Homo sapiens: one gene and its partners. The protein of the gene in region 2 purifies or fractionates together with the protein of the main gene of each other region. This does not show direct contact. Each region holds a gene or a part of one and is shown on either strand. Other genes may lie near its edges.

The links. The genes of interacting proteins can lie anywhere in the genome.
Region 1: the proteins of P4HA1 (region 2) and CORO1C fractionate together in Homo sapiens (co-fractionation; one large-scale study listed by BioGRID). This does not show direct contact.
Region 3: the proteins of P4HA1 (region 2) and CPSF6 purify together in Homo sapiens (affinity purification with mass spectrometry; 2 studies listed by BioGRID and IntAct, with this or other methods). This does not show direct contact.
Region 4: the proteins of P4HA1 (region 2) and SQOR fractionate together in Homo sapiens (co-fractionation; one large-scale study listed by BioGRID). This does not show direct contact.

The regions. Positions count from the first base shown.
Region 1 is NC_000012.12:108,658,519-108,662,018, forward strand, and holds part of CORO1C (coronin-1C), read right to left. Parts: intron 402-3,500; coding exon 220-401; intron 1-219. UniProt on the Homo sapiens protein: Plays a role in directed cell migration by regulating the activation and subcellular location of RAC1. Increases the presence of activated RAC1 at the leading edge of migrating cells.
Region 2 is NC_000010.11:73,090,367-73,093,866, forward strand, and holds part of P4HA1 (prolyl 4-hydroxylase subunit alpha-1 isoform 2 precursor), read right to left. Parts: intron 1-3,500. UniProt on the Homo sapiens protein: Catalyzes the post-translational formation of 4-hydroxyproline in -Xaa-Pro-Gly- sequences in collagens and other proteins.
Region 3 is NC_000012.12:69,270,569-69,274,858, reverse strand, and holds the end of CPSF6 (cleavage and polyadenylation specificity factor subunit 6), read right to left. Parts: 3' UTR 501-4,290; downstream 1-500. UniProt on the Homo sapiens protein: Component of the cleavage factor Im (CFIm) complex that functions as an activator of the pre-mRNA 3'-end cleavage and polyadenylation processing required for the maturation of pre-mRNA into functional mRNAs.
Region 4 is NC_000015.10:45,641,529-45,645,028, reverse strand, and holds part of SQOR (sulfide:quinone oxidoreductase, mitochondrial), read right to left. Parts: intron 1-3,500. UniProt on the Homo sapiens protein: Catalyzes the oxidation of hydrogen sulfide with the help of a quinone, such as ubiquinone-10, giving rise to thiosulfate and ultimately to sulfane (molecular sulfur) atoms.

The DNA.
Region 1 (3,500 bases), on a different chromosome or scaffold from region 2:
TACAAAGTGAGAGACTTGAGTAAAAGCTGGAAAATTTACAACTCTGGAGAGAAGCACAACTGGGGAGACAGAAGCCTTTATAAGCCTTCTCTTATTCACAGTTGGTGTCTACACACAACAGGGTCCCACTGACCAGTACCGCTGCCTGCCTTAAAAAGCAGAAAGCTCACACTCACTCAAGTGCTCCAACTACTGAGTTTTCATCCTAGGAATACTCACAGCAACAATCTCTTGTTTCCTGGGATCAATGACTCTCACTTTCTTGTCTTTGGAAGCTGTGCAGATCAGACTGCCATTCCGGTTCCAGCTCACATTGTAAATCATGTCTGAATGCATATCGTCCAAGTTTATAAGGGCTTCCCCTGTTCCCACATTCCAGATGATAATGGCATTATCACAGCCTAAAACAGGCAAAACCATCAGAGATTAGAAGATTAGAAACACCTATGTAACACACTCAGAAAACTACAGATACAGTGAGAATACACATATGTATATGCAGAGAGAGAGAGAGAGAAAGAGAGAGAGAGAAAAGATGCGGCTGATTGTCAGAGGCCCTACCAGAGGCCCTACTTACTAACAGCGTTAAAAACTGAAGTGACAAAGGAAAAAGTTTGTATAAAAGAAATAAAAGTGTTAAAGTAAAAACACAACTTGTTAAGTTTGGGTTCATATGAAACAATCAACCAAACAAAAACAAAGAACCACACCAAAACAGAACCCTATTTTCTTTAAAGAGTTAACTGGGCTGGTAGACCCAAGTGACTTCAAGTTTCCCTTTCTAGTAAAACAAGCATCAGGGTGTTGCTGCCAGCTTTGGGAGACCCCTATTAGGCAAATACGCTCCTTCCTTTTAAAGAAAACTTTGATTTTCCCCTGCTATACAATTAGTACATGTATACTATAGAGAACATATATAAACAAAAGGAAAAAAAATCACTTTTAATCCCACCACTCAGAGAGAAGATCATTATTACTTTTTTGATGTTTCTTTCCGAAAGATATTTCTGTGCACATACATAAATTATTTTACATACAGAGATGGGTTCATACACTTTACACATGGGCTGCTTTCTGCACTTGGTGGTAGGCTGTGACCCTTTTCACGTGCCAAATAAACTAAAAGTAAAAGGTTTAAATGACTGTTTAGGGCACTCAACAAAAACTCTGGGTGGCAGGTTATTCAAATCAGTGAGACTCTAAGACACAGCTTTGGGATATTAAAGATGGTACAACAGTGGAAGGGAAAAGCCAAGAGTAAGGCCTGTTTGCTCACAACAGATCTGTACCTTTAAATGAAGAGAAAAATAGGCCAAGACTGCTCTGATCATGGTGAGAAGCCCAAACTGTAATCAAGTAGCTACATAGATTCAGAAACGGATTCTGAAAGAAGCCCACAATGTCAACTCATTCACCATCTCAGCTCACCAACTCCTTCCTTCCTTCAAGGGTCTGCCCCACGCCTCCAGGCCCCTTTAAAAAGAGGCAGCATGTGTTGCTCCTAGGATGTTAGTTCAAGGATGAAGCAAAATACGGGAAGGACATCCTAGAGGTGGATTCTTGCCAACAAAGCAATTTGGAAATCATTTAGAAAAAATAGTCACTAACATCCAGGATACTTAAGTTACCTAAGGGTTAGAAGTAGGAAACTGGCCGGGCACGGTGGCTCACGCCTGTAATCCCAGCACCCTGGGAGGCCGAGGCGGGCAGATCACCTGAGGTCAGGAGTTGGAGACCAGCCTGACCAACATGGAGAAACCCTGTCTCTACTAAAAATACAACATTAGCCAGGTGTGGTGGCACATGCCTGTAGTCCCAGCTACTTGGGAGGCTGAGGCAGGAGAATCGCTTGAACTCAGGAGGCGGAGGTTGCGGTGAGCTGAGATCATGCCATTGCACTCCAGCCTGAGCAACAAGAGCGAAACTCCATCTCAAAAAAAAAAAAAAAAAAAAAAGAAGTAGGAAACTGGAGAAAAAAACTACACAACAGTAACAAAAGTTGAAGCTAAACTCTGGGATGGACAATTGAACCTTCCTCTGCCTTCTTCCCTATAGGCAAACAGGTAACTTCAGCCCCGGCAGCTGGATCATATAGCCTAAAAATATGCAGAACACGACAATCACCCATTCTCCTTCACATGTAAAAGGGAGAATGCAGACCAGTCTGTTGCTGCTGCCCTGTATTGAGCCTTGATGAGAAAGGTAGCAGGGAATTTTCCATGAAGGAATTCCAGCTCTGGAATTTTTTTCCTCTCCTTAATCAGACTGAGGTTCTGAGAGAACATCAAAAATGATTCCCAAGTATAGTCGATGGTGATTATAAAAAACATGGCATCTTTTTTGAAAAGTGGGCCTTAGTTTCAATAGTTACTTGGCATTATAATTTTTTATTTAACTCACTATGAGTCATAAACATTGTGTATTCCCAGTTAAAAACTGAACTGCCCCTCCTCCTTTTTACTGGTGAGGGGAAAGACCTTTAAAAATCCTATCTCTAACATTAGTATCACTTTTTAAATAAACCACTTTTATTAAGGTATAACTTACATACAATACAATGCACCCATTTTAAGTATATATTTGCTAAGTTTCAACAAATGTATAAACTCATGTAGCCACTACTATGATCAAGATACAGAATATTTCCATCACCCCACAAAGTTCCCTCATGCTCTCTGTATTGCTTTCATAAAAGAAAATGAAATCTCCAATTTTAGATAAAGGAAAAGATTTCTGTACAACACCAGTGTCCAGAAATAGGGGACTTATCAAGTAAAATGAGGTATATCCAGAAAATGGATTAGTATGAAGTCATTAAAAATAGGAAGAGAGCTTAATGGCACGTGAAAAGGGTCACAGCCTACCACCAAGTGCAGAAAGCAGCCCATGTGTAAAGTGTATGAACCCATCTCTGTATGTAAAATAATTTATGTATGTGCACAGAAATATCTTTCGGAAAGAAACATCAAAAAAGTAATAATGATCTTCTCTCTGAGTGGTGGGATTAAAAGTGATTTTTTTTTCCTTTTGTTTATATATGTTCTCTACAGTATACATGTACTAATTGTATAGCAGGGGAAAATCAAAGTTTTCTTTAAAAGGAAGGAGTGTATTTGCCTAATAGGGGTCTCCCAAAGCTGGCAGCAACACCACAGAGGGAACACAGGGCTTCTGGCTCCCAACAAAGTACACCTTCTACCATATCAGAAATAACCAAAACTATGGTTCATGGAGGGCCCTGGCAGGAACCATGAAACCTGCTGAAATTATAGCAGGAAATTCATAGCTTTCCTCAGGTTGTCGAAATGGCCTTGAAACACACACACGTGCACACACACACAAGTATGTATGTGGGCTGGGGGAGCAGTGCACCCCAATACTCTTCACCATGGTTTCCTAATAATCTGCTTTAAAACCATATAGCACACAACCAAAACACATTTGCTTCCCCCCACTCAGAGAGCCACAAGAGTGGAAGACAAGGGGAGGACCGCTGAGCT
Region 2 (3,500 bases):
CAAGCAGTCCTCCTGCCTCGGCCACCCAAAGGGTTGGGATTACAGGCCTAAGCCACTGTGCCTGACCTTGAGGATACTCTTGAAGGTGATGGATATGTTCCTTATCTTGATTGTACTGATATTTTTTTAAGTAGATATTTTTGTCAAATTTATCAAATTGTACACTGTAAATATATGCAATTTGTCCTGTCAATTTTGCTCAATAAAGTCGTTAAAATATATCAGTTTATTCAATTTATTAGTAATCACCCTTATATCAAAGATTAGTGTTTTACTTATTACTATCACTCTACTTGGTGGCAATGGTCACTATTCACTATTTTCAAATACAATATTAAGGTTTTTTAAATTCAGGCATAGTAAATTGAGGTCTATTTTCAAAATATCTTTGAGGTTAAAGGAAGTAACTGCAGGCCAGGTGCGGTGGCTCATGCCTGTAATCCCAGCACTTTGGGAGGCCGAGGCTGATGGATCACCCCCGGTCAGGAGTTCGAGACCCGCCCGGCCAAGATGGTGACACCCTGTCTCTACTAAAAATACAAAAAAGTAGTCGGGCGTGGTGGCGGGTGCCTGTAATCCCAGCTACTCGGGAGGCTGAGGCAGAGAATTGCTTGAACCCAGGAGGCAGAGGTTGCCGTGAACCGAGATTGCGCCACTGCACTCCAGCCTGGGTGACAGAGTGAGAGTCCATCTCAAAAAAAAAAAAAAAAAAAAAAAAGAAGTAACTAAATTTTGAAATCATGTAAATTTGAGAATGTCTTCATGTAACCTTTGACTATGAATATGTTGCCTGAGTTTACCAAAAAAATAAATAAATAAATAAATAAATAAATAAAAAGGAGGAAGGTTGTCAGAACCATAGGGCAAGAACAAAGGTCACACACACAAGTAACATTTTGAGGTCCTAAATTCAACCAGTAGGTTTTAGAAATACCAACTTTTTTTGTTTTTTTGAGACAGGGTCTGGCTCTGTCACCCAGGCTGGAGTGGAGTGGAACAATCAGAGCTCACAGCAGCCTTGAACTCCTGGGCTCCAGAGATCTTCCCACCTCAGCCTCCCAAAGCACTGGGATTACAGATGTGAGCCACCACGCCTAGACTAAAATAAACATTTCTTGATCATATTTTTGGAGAAATTAGATATGCAAATCTAGTTAATATAAGATTAGAACTGTAAGAGAAGTCTTGAGCCTACTTAAAATCAGTTAATCAATATTTAATTTATTGTTGCAGACACATGTAACAGGATATCTGATGCTTCATACACTGTTCAATGCCTTTTAATTTTATGACTTGTATGATAGTTCTCGGCTATTCATTCTTGGGTTTTACTGAAGTTCCAAAAATCAAAGAGCTTTGATTCTTGTAATGGAAATATCTAGAGAAACTTGTGTTTAACTGACTCGGCAGAGATGAAGGCCAAATTCTCATATGTACCTATAACATTACTCAAATACTATTCTTAGTACAAAAAAGTTAAATATACTCTTATCTCTGAACATGAGCTATTCAGACCAAGGCCACTCAGGTCAGAGTAGAATACTCAAAAGCTGGCTTTAGCAGTCCCTTTCCTCCTAAAAAATGGATTATTGCTCTGAGGCCCAGGTATACTCAGCTTCATCCCTCCCAAGGCTATTCTGTCAAAATTCCACTTTTATTTCCACCCAGTCTACCTCTTTCTAGTCTTCAATTATCTGTTTACTCTAATGCCAGATCCAAATTTCTCAAGTTGAGGTAAAGAGAGACAAAATAAGACCATGTATACTAGAACAGGGAAAAATGAATTCATGGTTGTAGAGGATGTGAATCTAGATATGCATTTCCATTCAGTGCTACAGATTTAATATCTAGTAAAATGTTAGCCACATGGTGCTATATCATGTAATTTTTATGTCCTACTTCTCCTATGAAACATTTCTCATCATTCTTGATTTTCCTACAGTCTACTGGCCATATTGTAAATAATTTTTTTTTCTTTTCTTTTTTTTTTTTTTTTTTTTAGAGACAGGGTCTTGCACTCTCACCCAGGCTAGAGTGCAATGGTGCTATCATAGCTCACTGCAGCTTCCAACTCTTGGGCTCAAGCGACCCTCCCACCTCAGCCTCCCAAGTAGTTAGACTACAGATGCATGCAACCTCATGCCCCCTTAATTAAAAAAAAATTTTTTTTGTAGAGAGATGGGGTCTCACTATGCTGACCAGGCTGGTCTTGAACTCCTGGCCTCAAGTGATCCTCCTGCCTCGGCCTTCCAAAGTGCTGTGATTACAGGTGTGAGCCACCATGCCTGGGCAACATAGTAAGGCCCTGTCTCTAAAAAAAAAAAAATTTAAATATAAATTTAAAAATTAAAAAATTGGTTAAAGTTTACTGTAATTATACAGGTTGATAAAATAAACCACTAAATTACAGTCCTCTCTTTGCACTACTTATAATGGAGAAACAGCTCAAGTGTCCAACAAGAGAGTAAGGATGACCAGGCATGGTGGCTCACACCTATAATCCCAACACTTTGTGGGGCAGATGGGAGAATCACTTGAGGCCAGGAGTTCGAGACTAGCCTGGTCAACAGAGCAAGATCCCATCTCTACAAAAAATTAAAAAATTAGCTAGACATGGTGGCATGCATCTGTACCCCGAGCTACACCCGGAGGCTGAGGCAGAAGGATTGCTTGAGCCCAGGAGTTCAAGGCTGCAGTGAGCTATGGTCACACCACTGCACTCCATCCTGGGCAACAGAGCAAGATCCTATCTCTTAAAAAAAAAAAAAAAAGAGAGAGTAAGGCTGAGTGTACTAATTCCACATAATATTACTATTTAAGAAAGAAATGAGTAATATGGACACATTTTTATGAAACACTAAACATGAGGAAGAGAAAGGCCCAATATAGAACTCATTCACTGATGACAACTAGGTAAGAAGTCTGAATCTCTATAATGTATTTTTAGCAAATGTCAAATCAAATATACTAACAGTCATACTGATCATCCAAAGGAAGACCAGGAAAAAGAATGTTTTTCACCACACCGAGTTTAAAAACTGCTGGAGTAACCTAAATGAGAGTCCTTTTGAATTGCCAAAGCTTTTCTTTAGGTACAATACTTATTCAACTAGAGAAACTGAAGCTGTCCTAATGACAGGACAGCTTCAATTTATACAAATAAATTTTCTTGAATAGAAACACAAAGCTTTGGCCGGGCACGGTGGCGTGATCACACCTGTAATCCCAGCACTTTGGGAGGCCAAGGCGGGCAGATCACGAGGTAAAGAGATCGAGACCATCCTGGTTAACACGGTGTAACCCCGTCTCTACTAAAAATACAAAAAATTAGCTGGGCGTGATGGTGGGCGGCTGTAGTCCCAGCTACTCGGGAGGCTTAGGCAGGAGAATGGCGTGAACCCGGGAGGTGGAGCTTGCAGTGGGCCGAGATTGCACCACTGCACTCCAGCCTGGGTGGCAGAGTGAAACTCCATCTCAAAAAAAAAAAAAAAAAAAAAAAA
Region 3 (4,290 bases), on a different chromosome or scaffold from region 2:
TATTCACTTGTTTAGAACTGTTACCTTTAATACTCTGAAGCTTGCAGGTAAGAAATCTGAGGCCTGATATTAATACCTGGCACAGAAATATCTACTGAAATCACTGAAACTGAAGTCTGTTACTGTTTCAAAAGTACCCCATAATGTTTCCAAGCTAACCAGTAAAATATTTTTGCTACAAACATTTTTACTTAAGTCTAGTAAGGTTAATGATCCTCTAAAACTAGACAAATGCTTTCTGAATCTTCCATTTAAAAACCATGTAACAGCCTGGAAATCTGTCAGGCCTCTTAATCCTAATTTTAGCCCAATTATCAGTCGCTTTAAAGAGCACCAAAATGTCAATACACAAGAAAACCACCACTATCTGGCTTAAAGATAGAATACAGACAACAGTCCAATTTCTGCTATACTGCATATTGCCAATAAACATTAACTACTTAAAACCATACACAATGGTTACCAAATAACAAATTAAACAAAAAAGACAAACTGCAAAGTCTTATCAAAAGTTTGTTTTATTTTCAATACAAGATAAATACCATGCTTGTTACTAGTGCAGTTTAAGGCCGACAATGGCCATATATCAAACTGCCGAACAGTCACCTAAATGCTAAAGAAAGGAAAGACAAAGTAAACATTAAACACAAAATTGCAATTACAAACATTTTAATAAAATGGAATGAGCTTTTTAATTGAAGCTAATATGAAGTCTAATTCTCATGGACAGCAAAAAAAAAAAAAAAAAAGTCTATTAGATCAATTATCACCTTACCTTTTTGCACAGAAATCTTATTGTGAAGTCACCATAGAGTCAATAGCTAAAATTTTAAGACTTTCTTTGGCCTTCTGATATTAAACAAATTATTTACAAACTGTGATCAGTAATTCGTGGATATTGGTAAAATGATACAATTTTTTGTTGTTGTTGTTAAGGGCTTTCCATTAAAAATTGTAAAACAACTTTGTAAGGCTGTACAGGGCTGTAAACTACTTTGCTAATATACCATGGGATGCAGAGGAAGGAATAATAGACCTTTTTTTTAAGGCTAAAGTTATCAATGTTATAGATGCATTCCTTAAAATACATTATGATTTATACCCAAAGGATCCTTTCCCATTAAATACCACCTGAGTACTACAATTTTCAAAGTAAAAAAATAAACATGAATTCACCATAGTTATTTTAAAATAATTTAACTTACAGAATGTTGAGAAGTGTTACGCAGTAACAGTGCGACAAAAAGAACACACTTTCAAAACAAAATGTTTTCGCTAAATGCAGGGTCTGTCCAATTATGAAATTAATGTAAAACATTTACACCCATGGCAGAGTTTTAGGATACTCCCACGTGAAAAAAACTCTTGGTAGTATTTACTATGCAGTTACCACTTCAAGATGTGTGTGACTTCAATTAAATTCAACCTAGTATTTAAAAGACTCCATTACAATATGTTAATACAGCAGGAAGTCTTTAAAGACATTAAAATCTGTCGTATATAATCAAGTATTTATACGTCCCATACAAAAACCATAGTAGCTGCATACTCAGTGAATGCCACAACCTGAAATTCTAAAAAAAGAACATTGGTTAAGACAAACCTAAATCAATCTGAACAGTGTTGCCTGAATATTTAGAATATTCACAAAAATTCATATTGCTTCTTTCTAATGCCAAGAAAGAAGAGTATAAGAACTTCCTCCCAGAAGCCTAGACATTTTAATACATTTTCTATTTCAACTTACAATGAAACTTTAATCCTGAATCTTGATTTATCTAAATCAAAAATCTCACATTACGAACACAAGGAATGCCATATGTAAGGCCACATCTTAATAAATTTATAATTTTTGGTTGAATATTTATTGAAAAAATCAGTCTAAGGCTTCTAAGAGTCAAGTTGCTTAAAAAAATAAATACACCAGTGTTTAAACTGAAGTTAAGGTTAAAAAAACGCATACACACACACACACACACACACACACACTGTAAGAACAGAAAAATAGAATGCTTTGCTACAAAAATCCCACTTAATATATTTTAGCACAAAAATGTCTAATATACACTGGATAAGCGTGCATTTACGTACATACAACTAGGGGAAACATTTACAGAGGGCTACGGGATGCAAATGAACTTAATGAGTAATAAAAACCAGTTGTTATCTGTAAAACAGAGAATCTCAATACTGTATTCTCAGTCAAGAATTAGAACATAAACTTCCTCTTAAGCTGAAGCTTAAAACACAAAATTGGAGCCATTTTAGAAAATACAGAAAATGCAATGATCATTCAGGTATGAAAACCAAAATGTCGAGAGCACTCCAACAGAAAAGTCTTGTAATGCATCTCATTGTATAAAACAGTATGTATTTAGATTGGCACAGTTAAATACATAAGGGAAAGAGAAAGTCTTTGCCCTTTCCACAATTTTCCTTCACTATAAAATATTATACAACATTCATTAAAACCTCCATGTTTATTTTAATAACTGACCTGAAACTAGTAAAAAATAAAGCAATATTCTCCACAGGAGAATTAAATGAAAATAGTATCTTAAGCTACAAGTTATCTGTGTATTCCAAATTGTCATTAACTGCTTAAGAACATTCTAGGTAAAAGGACCATTAAATGGGCTAAACTATGATCAAAAGCCACTGCAACTTACTCCAAACCTTATGAAAAGTGACAAAAAAAAAAAACACACATCTGCAAATTTACACTGGAATATGCTTTCCACAACATAGTTCCTTTAACCAAAAGCAGCACTTTCAATCCAAAGTGTTGCCTCAGAAGCAGTACCATTCAGGTACTGTATCACTCATCTGTTTAACTTTACTACTGGCTGAAAGGAATGTGACTGTATAGCACTAATAAATGCTATGTTTTAAAATTCAACTCGTTTGTTTTCACATCCACTACAGTTATTAACTAAGGAAAAAATGAAAAGGTCTCTGAGACACTGTTTTTGGTGTCTATGCAAGGATTTATCTCTTTGGATTGTTTTTACACATTAAAAAAAGGAAGAGTTTTCAAATAACATTAACCCATAAACAACTGAAGGGGGTATGAAGAACAAAACAAGGCCTGCAATTTTCACCTTTACTGCTATACATTCACGTGTTATCAGGTAGAGAAGGACTTTGCAAAATTACTTGGTCAAACCAAGAAGTTATTTCCTTCTGACAACACTTAAAATAACGGATTAGCAGCAAACAAATCTAGTACACTCACACTGTCTGTAACGAAAGTCATGTAATGAGATCAGCCAAGCAAGGAGAAGAGTGATATAGAAGGAGCAATTAAAAGGTTCCATTGATAAAATATGAAAAGGTAAATAAAGGATTTAATTAGTATAAAATTTCCAGTTTCATTTCAAGTGCAGTTAGATTTTTGTGATTCCATTTTTAAACTGTTCAAAGAAAATTTTATTTTCATGGACATTTTACTTACCTTTTAACCCTTTACTATTAACTAATTTCTCTTGTAATATTTATATGTCCATACTTCTTCGCATTAGGGCATTGTAGTCAAAATATTAAAAAGCCAAGAAATGACACAACAATATACAGAAAACAGGAAAATTTTGATACAACTCTAAAATAATGTTAAAAAAGCAACCGCATTTTCAACAAAATGCTTTAAAAAATCATTTCTGAAAGTGAACAGTTCTGATAAACATCAACGATCCCATGCACAGATACTTCAAACACAAAATATTTTAAAATAAAACTGGCAGTGATATGGGTAATTCAAAACAGCTAATTTTGTCAGAAGTGGTTTGATAGCAGACAAGATGAAAGTGAAGAACAGCAGTGGAAATTTCTGGAGGGTTTCTACAGTTGCACATAACACAGTATCTAGGGTATTTTAACACTTTAAGCATTGTCCTAGAATTTGGGTACTCTTTAACAACCAATGTGTATTAACAGAAGATCTCTCAAAGATAATCAGATCTTAAAAACATATTAACGTGCTCAAGAATTTTAAGTCAAATTTCTGAAGTAGTGATTTCAAATTACATTCCCATAAAAACACCTAATCAAGTTGACACCCTGCCTCTGCCAATTTTGCAATCAAGAACACATGCTAGTCAGGTGCTTTTAAAGTGGGCCTATATGTAAGGCAGGTTTGAAAAAAATCTTTGATTAAGTAACTATAGCATGAATCAATACGGTGCATGAATATACATAGTATTCCTTAAACTGTGCAGACACGGTTTATCTGTAATTTCCCATTACAAATACTGGGGAATACAACCGAATGTTAATGAACATCACATCCTTCAA
Region 4 (3,500 bases), on a different chromosome or scaffold from region 2:
GGTTTGACATTTTGGGGTCTTGCTAATCCCAGAGACTGCCCCTCCCAGGACTAGCTAACTCTGAGAGATGGTAAATGGCTTGCCTGGCTTGCCTATGACCACACCTTTGATATGTAAACCAATCAATCCAGAGCCATATTCTGAACCACCTCCTCTATTTGGCTTTAACCCTGCAAGAGGCAATTTTCCCCTGCCCTTATTATTCCAGGGCCAGGCATCAGACAACTACAACTATAGGCAGCTCATGAATCCTGGAGCACTCTAAAATTATTCAAACTAGCCAATCCCAAACCTAGCCAGCCCTTTCCCCTGCCTCACAATACAGTCTTTTGCCTGTTCTTTCCCCTCACTTTTTCTGCCCCTTCACCTACGCAGGTGCTTTCCCATATGGCCCCATGTGAGGTGTTATGCCTCCTGTTTCTAGGGAACTGTGAGTAAGAGCTTCTTCCTTCATGGCAGTCACCTCCTGATCTGTTGGCCTCACCATACTTGATTAAAACAAATCCCAGGTACGTTGTAATACATCTAGATTAAAATGCATGTGCCAACTATTCAGTCAGATGGAAGCTTTTACATGTTTAACACATTTTTGCTCGGCTTCTTCTCCTCACATATCCACTAAACTGTCAGGCGGCATCTTAAAAGCCAGGCGCGGTGGCTCATGCCTGTAATCCCAGCACTTTAGAAGGCCGAGGCAGGTGGATCACTTGAGGTCAGGAGTTTAAGACCAGCCTGGCCAACATGGTGAAACCCTGTCTCTGAAAAATACAAAAATTAGCCAGGCATGATGGCGGGTGCCTGTAATCCCAGCTACTCAGGAGGCTGAGGCAGGAGAAACGCTTGAACCTGGGAGGCAGAGGTTGCAGTGAGCCGAGATCGCGTCACTGCACTCCAGCCTGGGCACAACAGAGCAAGACTCCGTCTCAAAAAGGAGAAAAAAAAAATACGCCGTCTCTATGCCGTCTCTAAAATGCAATTTAATTACATAGTACCGAAGAATGTTACAATTTGTGGGTGATTGAGCTAAATTTTTATAAATTTTTGCAACTAAATAACATAGCTACAGTTTGAGTTTTTAAGGCAGTAACCGCTCTAGAAGAAGCAGCACGTGGCCTTCCTTTCCTTTGTCATATACTATCCTCCATTCTATTGAAACTTAAGATATCTTCTCCACCAAGAAAAATCTTCACATCTATTTTATCCATTTAACCTTGATAAAGGAGGGCATCAGCCAGAAGTGCTCAGAAAAGAAGGTGAGAAACAAGTTTTCTGCAGCATATAAGTCTATGTGCAAATTCAGGTTTATACCTACACTGAATTTGTCTCAATCACACAGGGGCTAAGTTTGCAGAACTGAAAATCAGGAAAGATAATCTAAGCTGAATTTTTATTAGGAGAATTTTTACCTGCGCAAATGATATACGATTAAATTACTTACATTTAGCTATGCTAAATATGTAAGTGTATCTTTGTGAAATAGACTTACATGAAATTCGCATGGTCACAATTCTGCTGCTGTTTAAGAATGTTTCCAGGCCAGGCATGGTGGCTCACGCCTGTAATCCCAACACTTTGGGAGGCTGAGGCAGGCGGATCATGAGGTCAGGAGATTGAGACCATCCTGGCTAACACAGTGAAACCCTATCTGTATTAAAAATACAAAAAATTAGCTGGGCGTGGTGGCACGCACCTGTAGTCCCAGCTACTTGGGAGACTGAAGCAGAAGAATTGCTTGAACCTGGGAGGCGGAGGCTGCAGTGAGCCGAGATCGCACCACTACACTCCAGCCTGGGTGACAGAGCAAGACTCCATCTCAAAAAGAAAAAAGAATGTGTCCACAAGTATTCATTGAGCGCCCACTGTATGTAAGGATGCAAGCTGAGAGACAGCAATTTCTCCAGGCCTGACCCCCTCCCACTCTTTTAGCTAGGGCATTGAGGCTTTACATGGGAAAACAAAGTTCTGGAAAGTGATCGCACAAAGGGGCAGCTTTGAGTAAGAGAATCTTCTGGTGTTGGAACAAATTAACCCTCCTGTTGGAGGAGAAACAAAACCAGTTTCACATGGGCTAATTTTGACAAATCAGTTAGGAGACTATTGGAGTGGTCCAGGTGTGAGCGATAAGCTCCTGAATTAGGTGTTAGCATTAGAAATGCAAACAAAGATTCAGATAAGATAGAGGCTGGGAAGAGAGAATAATTTCGGAAGACGTGGGAAAGGCTTCTGGAAGAAAAAAAAAAGTCAAAGTTGACATCTAGACAGCTGAAGAAAAAGGAATTATGTGAGCAGAAAAAGGGAAGTTATGTCAGGGACCTGTTCGGGCTACTTTTGGACAGTTGGGTTCAAGATTTTGAAAGGAGAATCACTTGCAATGAGAATCTCCTAACGGTGGATATAAAGGAGGGCAGTCTAGCGCTCTGGGAAGAGGGAGAAATGAGATTGGATAGGCATGTGTTACTAAAGTTTAGGTCTGAGAGCTTATTCCCAGACAATGGCAATTTGATCTAGGAGTCACAAAGCAGCAACCTGCAGGCCAAGTGCAGGCCAGAGCTGTGTTTTGCTTGGCTCACAGTGCTTTTCTTGAATTTTGAATTAGTCATCAACATTAAAAAATTTGGAGATCTCGACAAAAAATATTCCAGATTCTTGGCCTCTAACACTAAGCCCACATTCTCACATGGAAACTCTTGGCTGGAGCTGAGCAGTCATTGGTCTTCTCCACCATGCACAAGGTTTCAGTTCACTCCAGCCCCACTCAGCCTATGTTGTTCATTTGTTACCTGCTCAGCCCTGGTGTGCATTTCAGCCTGTGGTTACTGCTAATGGCAGTGAGAGCCCTTGGAAGGTCTTAATAAAACTGGATTTATAAAGAGTCCCCAGGGGAAGCTGAGAGGATGAACTGGAGCAATTCAGTTGAGTTCAGCATTTTTGATTGTTTACTAAATGCCAGGGATTGTGCTAGGCACTGCACAGCCAGTGATGGGTAAGAAGAGTCTGTCTGTTATAACAGGAAAGACCAGGAATATGAAGATCCATTAAGCGGCTGTTTCAGAAATTCAGGCACAGTGAGGGTGGGGTCTGAATGGGAACAGAGATGAGGGGTGTGAATGTGAGACACACATTGACATTTTTGCGACAATCAGCTATAGGGGATAAAGAAGAAGGAAGAATGTGAACGATGACATTATATCCACTTGTTCAGGTGAATATAATGAAGACAGGATGTGAGCAGCAATACTAGAATTACTCAAAGTGGAGTAAAGGTCCAAGGCACTGTGAGGGAGAAGGAAAGCACCCCCCTTGAAAACTGAATGAGTGTTGTTCCGAGAAAGGATAGCAGCTGTGCTCTTCCTCTTGGCACACCTCTGCTTGAGTAATGGCAGTGCTATTCTTGCCTTGTGTGTTCAGGAACTGGATTACTATACTGTTAACAAATAAAGAAAATGGAGCAATCTTCACTTAGCCCTGCAGGGCCATGTTGAAACTCTCCCTCTGGAGCT